2 separate regions of the Homo sapiens genome follow, and region 2 is linked to region 1. A link means that fine-mapping ties the variant in region 1 to the plasma level of a protein whose gene starts in the linked region. Region 1 holds a variant in brackets. A gene starts in the other region. All regions are shown on their reverse strands.

Region 1 (5,373 bases):
TAGGAGACCTGGTTTATAATTGGTGCATTTGCTTACTAGCTGTGGGATTTGAGCACATCATGTAATCACATTGAAGTTTCTTCATCTATAAAATGGAGGTACTAGTCTAGAAATCTTTTTTTTTTTTTTTTTGAGACAGAGTCTCCGCTGGAGTGCGATGACGTGATCTTGGCTCACTGCAACCTCCGCCTCCTGGGTTCAAGCGATTCTACTGCCTCAGCCTTCTGAGAAGCTGGGATTACAGGCATGCGCCACCACGCCTGGCTAATTTTTGGTATTTTTAGTAGAGACGGGGTTTCACCATGTTGGCCAGGCTGGTCTCGAACTCCTGACCTTGTGATCCGCCCACTTCAGCCTCCCAAAGTGCTGGGATTACAGGTGTGAGCCACTGCGCTCAGCCTAGAAATCTTTAAGGTGCAATAAGGTTTTTTTGTTTGTTTGTTTGTTTTAACTTCTTGAAAAAAAATAGAGACAGTGTCTCACTATGTTGCCCAGGCTGGTCTCAAACTCCTGGCTTCAAGAGATCCTCCTGCCTCAGCCTTCCAAAGCGCTGGGATTACAGGCGTGAGCCACCATGCCTGGCCATGCTTTAGATTTTTGATTCAAGACCAGAAAAGAGCTTGCAAATAAAAAATTTGAAAGTTGTATCTTGCTCCCATTTCAAAAGGATGGGAGCTTCAACAGAGACAAAAATATTATGAAATCTTCAAATTGTCATTCAAATTTTATTTATAATACATATTCCTGATTTTAAATGCGTTGCGCTTAAAGGAGAATAAGGTTTACATTTTATTTATTTATTTATTTAGAGATGGAGTCTCGATCTGTCACCCAGGCTGGAGTGCAGTGGCACAATCTTGGCTCATTGCAACCTCCGCCCCTTGGGTTCAAGCGATTCTCCTGCCTCAGCCTCTCCAGTAGCTGGGATTGCAGGCATGCACCACCACGCCTGGCTAATTTTTTTAGTATTTTTAGTAGATACAGGTTTTCACCATGTTGGTCAGGCTGCTCTCAAACTCCTGACCTCAAGTGATCCACCTGCCTCCGCCTCCCAAAGTGCTGTGATTACAGGCTTGAGCCACTGTGCTCGGTCACGTTTTTATTTATATGGCCAGTGTTCCTTCGGTCTTTTGTCCTGTGAACAGAGCGGTTCACAAGAGTGGGTGATATAACACATCTCCATTTTACCATTTTACAGATGAAATTTTTTTTTTAATTTGACATTTAAAACCGTAAAGAAGTTTGTCCCATTTTTTCCACTCTTTTCAAAGCAACTTATTTAGTATTGACCATGCAGTGTTTATTCGTAAAAATAAAAGTTAAGAGACGTACATACCGGGAATCCTGTTGAGTGTCACCCAGAAATGTTCGTCGGGGCTGTAGGTGTCCTTGGACCAGGAGAGTAAGTCAAGTGCGAGCTGGTCTTGGAGGACGAAGTTAGCAAAGTCCCTTGTGAGAGCCACGTAGGCCGTGCCAAAGTAAATCACCATGTCATGAGGAGGAGGAGTTTTTAATTTTGTTGTTTTAATCACGTAGGAATTTTTGTGGTTTAACAGTTCTTGGTGGACGTATTTAGTCCGTCCAACAGCGTGGTCAGGAGGCAGCACTCCGGGGGTGATATTTTTCCCTTTAAATCCCTTCAGATACTGAACTATTTCCCTGTTGGTTTTCAGGGGAAAGTCTTGCCCGCAGGTGTTGATGACATACTTCCAGGGAACTTCAGAGGCCACAAGGTCTTCCAGGCAGTTCAGGTCAGCCTGGAGCCTGGAGATCCCCCCATAGACAACCGACTCCTTCTTGGAAGCCAGAAAAGCATTTGGGAAGCAGCTGAGTAACTGTTTCACTGCACCTTTAAAGGCATCCGTCGCCTTCTGATCCAGGTGCACACAGTAGACATTTTGGGGCATATAAATCGCCCTGAAGAGCCTCTCAAAAGTGCCGAAGTCTTTGTGGATG[G/C]TCACTGTGTAAGCTAAAGGGAACCCAGCCTCTTCTTCAGAGAGTGTTTCTGTTACATAGTGGCTTCGAACCATGTACTCATAGCAGGTAGCTTCATCAAGGGTAGTTTTCAATGCATTTTCTGTTGGGTAAAAAACTTTCCCCTCAAAAATCTGATGACAGGCTTCTGCTAACAGTGAAGCATTGGACAGAGCTGCCCTCAGAAAACGTTTATTCTCCCATAACTCAGTATTGTAAACAAATACAAAAATCAGGGCAGAGATAAGAGACGCGCTAAAAAGACAGTGCTTCCAAGAGCCCATCATTCACAACCAGGAAATGAGTAAAATATCTCTCTCTTGAGATAGGATCAGAGTGTAGATATATTTAACTTACATTTTCTCCAGGTTCCGAAATCATCCTCGTGATGGCTGAAGCTCTCGTCTGGCTGTTCCCTGTCCCTTCAGTTCACGGTTCTGGTCCTTTTTCTTTCTTCTTCCCCTCTTCACTTACCACTAGGTTGCATTTTCACTTTTCTGTGACACATTTCTGAAGTGGCTCCTTTGCATTTGGCTTGCCTGTTCTCCTGCTAACCTGCAACCTGTGTCTACACAAAAACAGATGTCCTCAGAGAGGTTCTGATTCCAGGGGGTCCACCTGTTCCCACCATGAAATTACAAGTGGGTGAGGTGACCATTCTGCAAGTCATCGGCTCTAAGACCTTAACCTCAGCCTCTTGTCCCGGCCAGAGTCTAGTAACTATGTCCCCTCCCCTGCTTCCTGTTAATCATTGTGTTCAACAGCCTGAGTTTATTTGCTTAAACTGCACTGCCAAGCTACGAGCTTCAGTTTAAAGCATGTGAATACTGCCTGGAGAGATATTCTATCAATAAATATGTAGTGCTTTAAAAAAATTGCTTAACCCTGTCTTTTTCCACAGCCACACCTCGCTCTCCCCATTGGCTGGGTATGCTATACGACATGGCATATGACTGGCTACTGGGCTAAATTCTTTCCAGGGCTTAATTTTGTCTGCTGCTGGGTAAAGTCCTTTAAAATGCCCATTAATTAGCAAGCTTACCTCACCACCTAACTTACTGCACAAAGTGACTGTGGCACTCGGATGAATAAAGGCTAACTTCTTTTTTTAAAACAACAAAACGACCAATAGCCCATCATCACCCAAAATTGCATACAGGCTAACATAGTGAATTTCAAGTTTATTTTGCCCTGGTCCGCATAGGATGCAGACAGAGAACCCTGATGCTTAGAGGAAGGAGAGAAGAGCATCTCAGTCTTGAATTTTAGGAGAGAGGCTCTTATGTCCAGATTTACAAATGCTTTAAAGGAGGCTTTTTTTTTAATCTGTAAAAAATGAGAATAATTTTACCACCAGAGGTCAATTGTGAGAATAAAATGAGATAACATATACAGAGTCCATCGCCGTGTCCAGGAACAGATTGGGGTGGTAAAGCAGCAGCAAAATGGTACTAAACAAGAAGTCCGTTCACACACACGCATGCATACACACGTATCTCTTACCCCACACTCATACTTCTAATAAATGACACAATTACCTCTCCTTTGAAATCTTCTTACTCTTCCCTTACTCCCTCCTCTGTGAGTCCATGCCAATCAGATTATACATCTAAAACGTCAGCGACGAGTTTTGTATGATGTGGTGGTTAGCTGCACCCGGTGTGAAAGCATGTTCCATTGGCGCCGAGCTCATGTATTCCTCATGTTTCTGGCTCCTAGCATTGTCTGTATGTAGTAGACAAGCAACTTTTTATTTTATTTTATTTATTTATTGAAACGGAGTTTCGCTCTCGTTGCCCAGGCTGGAGTGCAATGGCACGATCTCGGCTCACTGAAATCTCTGCCTCCCAGGTTCAAGCGATTCTCCTGCCTCAGCCTCCCAAGTAGCTGGAATTACAGACACCTGCCACCATGCCTGGCTAATTTTTGTATTTTTAGTAGAGACGGGGTTTCACCATTTTTGAGCAGGCTGGTTTCAAACGCCTGACCTCAGGTGATCCACCCGCCTCGGCCTCCCAAAGTGCTGGGATTACAGGCGCGAGCCACCGCACAATCAACTATTTATTGATTGAATGCTCAAGTTTTCATTTCCCTGCTTCCCTGATCACATTAGTGAGAAATTCCAGGTAATACTGATTTGTAGGAGATATATATTTGTATCTGTGAATGTGGTACAGTCAATAAACCTAATTTTTCCAATGTATCTTCTAACTTTTATTAAATGTAATTAATTAATTAATTTACTCTTTTGTAGAGATGGGGGTCTTACTGTGTTGCCCAGGCTGGTCTTGAACTCCTCAAGCTATCCTCCTACCTCAGGGTCCCAAAGCTTTAGGATGACAGCTGTGAGCCACTGCACCTGGCTCATTTTCTTAATCACAAAGACGACATAATATCGTAGATAGTTTCTAAACACAATGTTTCCACGTCCTGTACTTTCATTTACCTCTTGCCTATAGGAAATACACATTCTTATTTTATCAAGAACACAGGGGAGGCTGGGTGCAGTGGCTCACGCCTGTAATCTCAGCACTTTTGGGAGGCCAAGGCGGGAGGAGCTCGAGGCCAGGAGTTTGAGACCTGCCTAGGCAACACAGCCAGGCCCCATCTCTAATAAAAAAAAAAGAACGCAGGAAGATGCAAGCTTAAATCCTGCATTCTGCACTTACTATTATACAATAACATTTTCCATAGTGCTTCTTGGTGTGCCTTGGGTATTATCTTCACAATCACTACTTTAGAACCTGGAGTTATTCCTGTTGATTTTTCCGCTAACCCAGCTAAAAGCGAACACATTGAGACGGCAGCCAACCCCATTTCACGGTGTCAGGAACACAGGAAATGATGACAAGAAAGGACACAGGGAAAATTCTCTAGAACACAGTGAGTCAGTTCTCAGTTGCTTCTGGAATCAGATTCTACAGCGTGACTCAGGTACACCCAGTTGTGCCTATAGGGCCCCCAAAATAGAATTTAATCAACCCAAATATCTATTTTCTTAACTATCTTTCATGCGTCTATCCAGAATTCTTTTGAACAAATCACTTCTTCAATACAGAACGCATACAAAATCAATCTTTTCTGAAATGACTAAAATTTCTCTAATTTTTAGTTGACTTTTAACGTCTCTTTAGACCCTGTCCATATCAAATGAAATACTATAGGAATGATTAAATGAAAATGTCAATGCTGAATTATGCTTATCTAAACTAGTCAAGTAATTTTTACCATATTTTCTCCTAATTTATCCAGACAATTACATCAGGTGTTTGTTTGACTCTTACCTCATTCTTGGCCTAGTTCTATCCCTCCAGACATTGCAGACATAGAAGCATCTTGAATTATTTGCCTGCTCTTCGAATTTACAACTCACTGGATTTAGTTGCAGGGTAACGAACA
Region 2 (5,373 bases), not on the chromosome of region 1:
TCTTGAGGCAGAGGATCACTCTGCACTCTGTCACCCCAGGCTGGAGTGCAGTGGCACGATTTCAGCTCACTTCAACCTCTGCCTTCCAGACTCAAGCGATCCTCCTGCCTTAGGTTCCCGAGTAGCTGGAACTGTAAGGATGTGCCACCACTCCCAGCTAATTTTTGTGTGTGTGTATATCTATCTATATATATATATAAAAATTTTTTTTTTTGGTAGACATGGGGTTTCACCATATTGCCCAGGCTAGTCTTGAACTCCTGGGCTCAAGCGATCCTCCTATCTTGACCTCCCAAAGTGCTGGGATTACAGGCATGACTCACTGTGCCCGGCCCATTTTATTTTTTTTCATGTAACAAACAATGCTGCAATGAATCACTTTGAGCCTGGAGCATCTTTTTGCCTTCTCTCTCTCTCTCTTTTTTTTTTTTATATGAAGTCTCGCTCTGTCACCAGGCTGGAGTGCTGTGGCGCGATCTAGGCTTACTGCAACCTCCAACTCCCTGGTTCAAGTGATTTTCCTGCCTCAGCCTCCCGAGTAGCTGGGATTACAGGTACATGCCACCACGCCCAGCTAATTTTTTGTATTTTTGGTAGAGACAGGGTTTCACAGCGTTGGCCAGGATTGTCTCAGTCTCCTGACCTTGTGATCCGCCCACCTCAGCCTCCCAAAGTGCTGGGATTACAGGTGTGAGCCACCACGCCTGACTTTGCCTTCTCAAAAAAACAAACCTGCAACATACACACAACATAAAATTGAACATTTTAGCCAATTTATTTATTTATTATTATTATTTTGAGATGGAGTTTTGCTCTTGTTGCCCAGGCTGGAGTGCAGTGCCGTGATCTCGGCTCAACTGCAAACTCTACCTCCCAGGCTCAAGTGATTCTCCTGCCTCAGCCTCCCAAGTAGCTGGGATTACAGGCATGCGCCACCACACCCGGCTAATTTTGTGTATTTAGTAGAGATGGAGTTTCTCCACGTTGGTCAGGCTAGTCTCAAACTCTGGACCTCAGGTGATCCGCCCACCTCAGCCTCCCAAAGTGCTGGGATTACAGGCATGAGCCACCGCGGCCGGCCCAGCCATTTATTTTAAATTATTTTTTAGAGATAGGGTCTTGCTCTGCTGCATAGGCTGGAGTGGAGTGGCACAATCACGGCTCACTGCAGTCACAACCTTCTGGGCTCAAGGGATCCTCCCACCTCAGCCTCTGAAGTAGCTGGGACTACAGGCTGAAGCCACCATGCCCAGCTAATTTTTAAATTATTATTATTATTATTATTATTATTATTATTGAGATGGAGTCTCGCTCTAACGCCCAAACTGGAGTGCAGTGGCATGATCTCAGCTCACTGCAACCTCTGCCTCCTGGGTTCAAGCGATTCTCCTGCCTCAGCCTCCCTAGTAGCTGGGATTACAGGCACGTGCCACCATGCCCAGCTAATTTTTGTATTTTTAGTGGAGACGGGGTTTCACCATGTTGGCCAGGCTGGTCTGGTACTCCTGACCTCGTGATCCGCCCACCTTGGTCCCCCAAAGTGCTGGGATTACAGGCATGAGCCACCACGTCCAGGCTGAGCCACATTTTTTTATTCGTTAGTCAGTTCACACTGTAAACATGCAAATATTCAGGCAGGGATTCCCAGAAGTGGACTTGCTGTGTCAGCAGGCACATGAGTTTATCATTCCGGTGGCCTGTGCCAGGGTGCCCTCCACCAGTGCTACACCATGGACGCACCCCACAGCCTGGCTGGCACAGAATGTCATTGCATTGTTGGATTTTTGCCAATTTGATTGGTGAAGACAAACAGTTTGTGATTTGCAGTTTTCTTATTAAGTGTGAACTTTTTTTTTTTTTTGAGACAGGTCTCACTCTGTTGCCCAGGCTGGAATGCAGTGGAGTGATCTTGGCTCACTGCAGCCTCCACCTCCTGGGTTCAAACAATTCTCCTGCCTCAGCCTCCTGAGTAGCTGGGACTACAGGCACATACCACCACACCTGGCTAATTTTTGTATTTTTTAAAGTAGAGACGGGGTTTCACCATGATGGCCAGGCTGGTCTCGAACTCCTGGGCTCAAGCGATCTGCTCACTTCAGCCTCCCAAAGTGTTGGGATTACAGGTGTAAGCCACTGCACCTGGCAAGAATGAGCATCTCTGGACATGTTGAAAAGCAGTTTCCCGCTTTTTCTTCAAGGTCTCCGTTCAAAGCCTTTGACCATTTCTTGGAGTTTGGCGATGTGAAGGACAGAGGCCGAAAAGAGGGGAAAACGTGGGGGAGTGGACTCCCAGCCTCCCAGATCCCGGAGAAGCCTCTGTGCATTTGACAGCTGTGGACATGGTGTCACACGCAGTTAAGGTGGCACAGTGAGTCGGGCTGGCATAGGTTGTACCTGGTCCACCTGACACCAGGTTCAGGTGAGGCCTTCTCCCAGCCCACCCCTCCTCAGTATCATTTTTGTCACTACTACCCCTCCAGTCTGCCTCAGGCCCCCATCTGCTTCTGGGACCTCAGCCTCCTCCCCAAGTTGCCCACCCCAGACACCAGGCTCACTCCAGAGGGACTTCTTGAGCCAGTGCCCCTCTGCCCACGCACCTGCCTTGGCTCCACATGGACCTCTTCCCCCACCACCAATTCCTTCTATCCTCTCCACTCCTAACCATGCTATCCCAGCCAGCTACATTTTCCCAAGCTGCTGGGAGCCCTCCTCACTGTCCCCTCCAGCATAGAGGTGCCACTGTGCAAGAACTCAGTGGGAGAGGCTTGGAGGAGCTTGGAGAGCCAATGATAGGTTTGGGGAATCTTAGTGAACTCCTACTCATGCGTTGAAGCCCCAACTGTAATGCCTCCTCCTCCAGGAAGCCTTCCAGGACCCTGTCTTTCCCTCTGGACCTTCCTTAACTGCATGGGACTAGGAGTGTCTATGTCCAGCTCTGTCCTCTCTTAAGATAGCTCCTTGAGGACCTGGTCAGGGCTGAGGCCTCTTGGGGGCCCAGCGTGGGTGATGCTTGTTGAATGAATAAATGACTGCATGAGCTGGGAACCAGCCAAGCTGAGATCAAGAAGCGAGTTGATGAGGTGGCAGTCGGTTGGGGTGCTAATAGAGGACATGAAGTCACTGGGTTCTAGCAAGAGGGAAGCGGGACTCTGGTCCACCCCTCCCTCTTGCCCTCCATCCACCTCTGGTGAGAACCTTGAGGCCCTGCAAGGGGGCGGATCTCTGTCTTCATTCTTCCCCTCTGCACTCCACCCAGACACCAGTTCCTCTTCCCCCTGAGTCGCTGGGTGCAGAGCCAGAGGAACGCCAGCGACCCCAGCAGCGCTGCGGACGGTGCTGGCCGTGGCCGCTGCGGCCCCCGTGTCCAGGTGGGCCAGGACGCAGCCTCTGGGCGCCGTCGCTTTTCCAGCATCGCAGAGGCAAAAGCGTGGCAGTGGGACCCAAAAGGTAGGACTGAGGCTCTAGAACTTGCACCTGTGCAGGGACTGCAAACCAGACCTGGGAGGACCCTTTCAGCAGCCCCCACTCCACCCTATCCCAGGACTTCCCAGCGACCCGCCGTTCTGGGAGATACCGGGAGCGTGATCAGGGGGCGGGGCCGTTTCCAAGGCAACCGCTTATTTGCATAGGGTCCCGTCCTGGCCAACGAGGGCGCCCCAAATGTTCAGGACATAGAAGAAGGGGTTAACTGGCCCGGATCTCCTCCTCGCCTTCCAAGCCCGCTAAGCACTGGGGTTATCTACCCATTCCCCAGAAGGGGAGACTGAGGCAGCCCACCAGCCAAAGGAGGCGACCAGACTGGGGCTGCGTTTTACCATTTCAGAAGCGGCTTGAGCTGGTCTGAGCTATAATAATAAACACTGGCGGTGGAGGCGAGGGCGACCACAGGGCTGAGGTCAGGGCTAGGATTCCGGTGTCTCTACGTAGGTTGCTTGAATGGGGGGCACCCTGGCATGGACGCTGCTGTTGCCGCTGCTGCTGCGGGAGTCAGACAGCCTAGAACCGTCGTGCACCGTGTCCTCCGCGGATGTGGACTGGAACGCGGAGTTCAGTGCCACGTGCCTGAATTTCAGTGGCCTCAGCCTGAGCCTGCCTCACAACCAGTCTCTGCGGGCCAGCAACGTGATTCTCCTTGACCTGTCTGGGAACGGCCTGCGAGAGCTTCCAGTGACCTTCTTTGCCCACCTGCAGAAGCTTGAGGTCCTGAACGTGCTACGCAACCCCTTGTCTCGTGTGGATGGGGCGCTGGCCGCCCGCTGTGACCTTGACCTGCAGGCCGACTGCAACTGTGCCCTGGAGTCCTGGCACGACATCCGCCGAGACAACTGCTCTGGCCAGAAGCCTCTGCTCTGCTGGGACACAACCAGCTCCCAGCACAACCTCTCTGCCTTCCTGGAGGTCAGCTGCGCCCCTGGCCTGGCCTCTGCAACTATCGGGGCAGTGGTGGTCAGCGGGTGCCTGCTTCTTGGACTTGCCATCGCTGGCCCTGTGCTGGCCTGGAGACTCTGGCGATGCCGAGTGGCCAGAAGCCGGGAGCTGAACAAACCCTGGGCTGCTCAGGATGGGCCCAAGCCCGGTTTAGGCTTGCAGCCACGGTACGGCAGCCGGAGCGCCCCCAAGCCCCAAGTGGCCGTGCCATCCTGCCCCTCCACTCCCGACTATGAGAACATGTTTGTGGGCCAGCCAGCAGCCGAGCACCAGTGGGATGAACAAGGGTAAGTAAGCCACTGAGACACCTGCCAAAGTGGTGAATAATAAGGCTCCACACCCAGATGGCCGAGGTTCAAATCCCAGCTCTGCCGCTTGAAGGCTGTGGGATCTTAGGTGAGTAGCTTTACTTCTCTGAGCCTCAGTCTCCTCACCTATAAAATGGGGAGAGGACTGGACATGGTGGCTCACACCTGTAATCCTAGCACTTTGGGAGGCCAAGGCAGGCGGATCACTTGAAGTCAGGAGTTTGAGACCAGCCTGGCCAACACGGTGAAACCCAGTCTGTACTAAAAATACAAAAATTAGCCAGGTGTGGTGGCGGGCGCCTGTGGTTCCAGCTACTGAGGAGGCTGAGGCAAGAGAATCTCTTGAACCTGGGAGTCAGAGGTTGCAGTGAGCCAAGTTCATGCCATTGCACTCCAGCCTGGGTGACAGAGTGAGACTCCATCTCAAAAATAAAATCAATAAAATAAAGTAAAATGAGGGAGAATTACAGCCCCCATCATAGTGTGTTGGGGTAAGAATTAAGTGAGTTCCCATATATGGGACAAACTTCCCCCCCTTATGACCTGTAAACCCAGTTTCTGGCGGCCAAGGATGGGGAGACAGGAGGCAACTGCTTGAGCGGAGTTGGGGCTCCGCGGTGGCGGTCAGCAGCATAGG

Direction of the effects. Positions count from the first base shown, and alleles are read on the strand shown. Strength reflects both the effect of a copy and how common the allele is.
As copies of G replace C in region 1, the plasma level of the protein whose gene starts at base 3,278 in region 2 goes down (weak association).

Evidence for each region. PIP is the chance, under the fine-mapping model, that this variant and not a neighbour inherited with it causes the effect. The UK Biobank Pharma Proteomics Project read protein levels with antibody pairs (Olink). The fine-mapping took linkage between variants from a reference panel, not from the people measured, so its PIPs are less certain.
Region 2: it holds the start of LRRC25, and the variant in region 1 is fine-mapped to the plasma level of the LRRC25 protein (UK Biobank, PIP above 0.99).

What each region holds. Positions count from the first base shown.
Region 1 is chr6:10,525,800-10,531,172 of GRCh38, reverse strand. GCNT2 (glucosaminyl (N-acetyl) transferase 2 (I blood group)) reads right to left here. Exons shown (of 5, transcript NM_145649.5): 2 at 3,513-3,699; 3 at 1,337-2,542. The coding sequence starts at 2,261. Among named protein-coding and RNA genes, the nearest start is that of GCNT2, 7.1 kb to the right of the region's middle. The variant G/C (reference allele first, on the strand shown) is at 1,957.
Region 2 is chr19:18,395,527-18,400,899 of GRCh38, reverse strand. LRRC25 (leucine rich repeat containing 25) reads left to right here and starts at 3,278. Exons shown (of 2, transcript NM_145256.3): 1 at 3,278-4,715. The coding sequence starts at 3,937.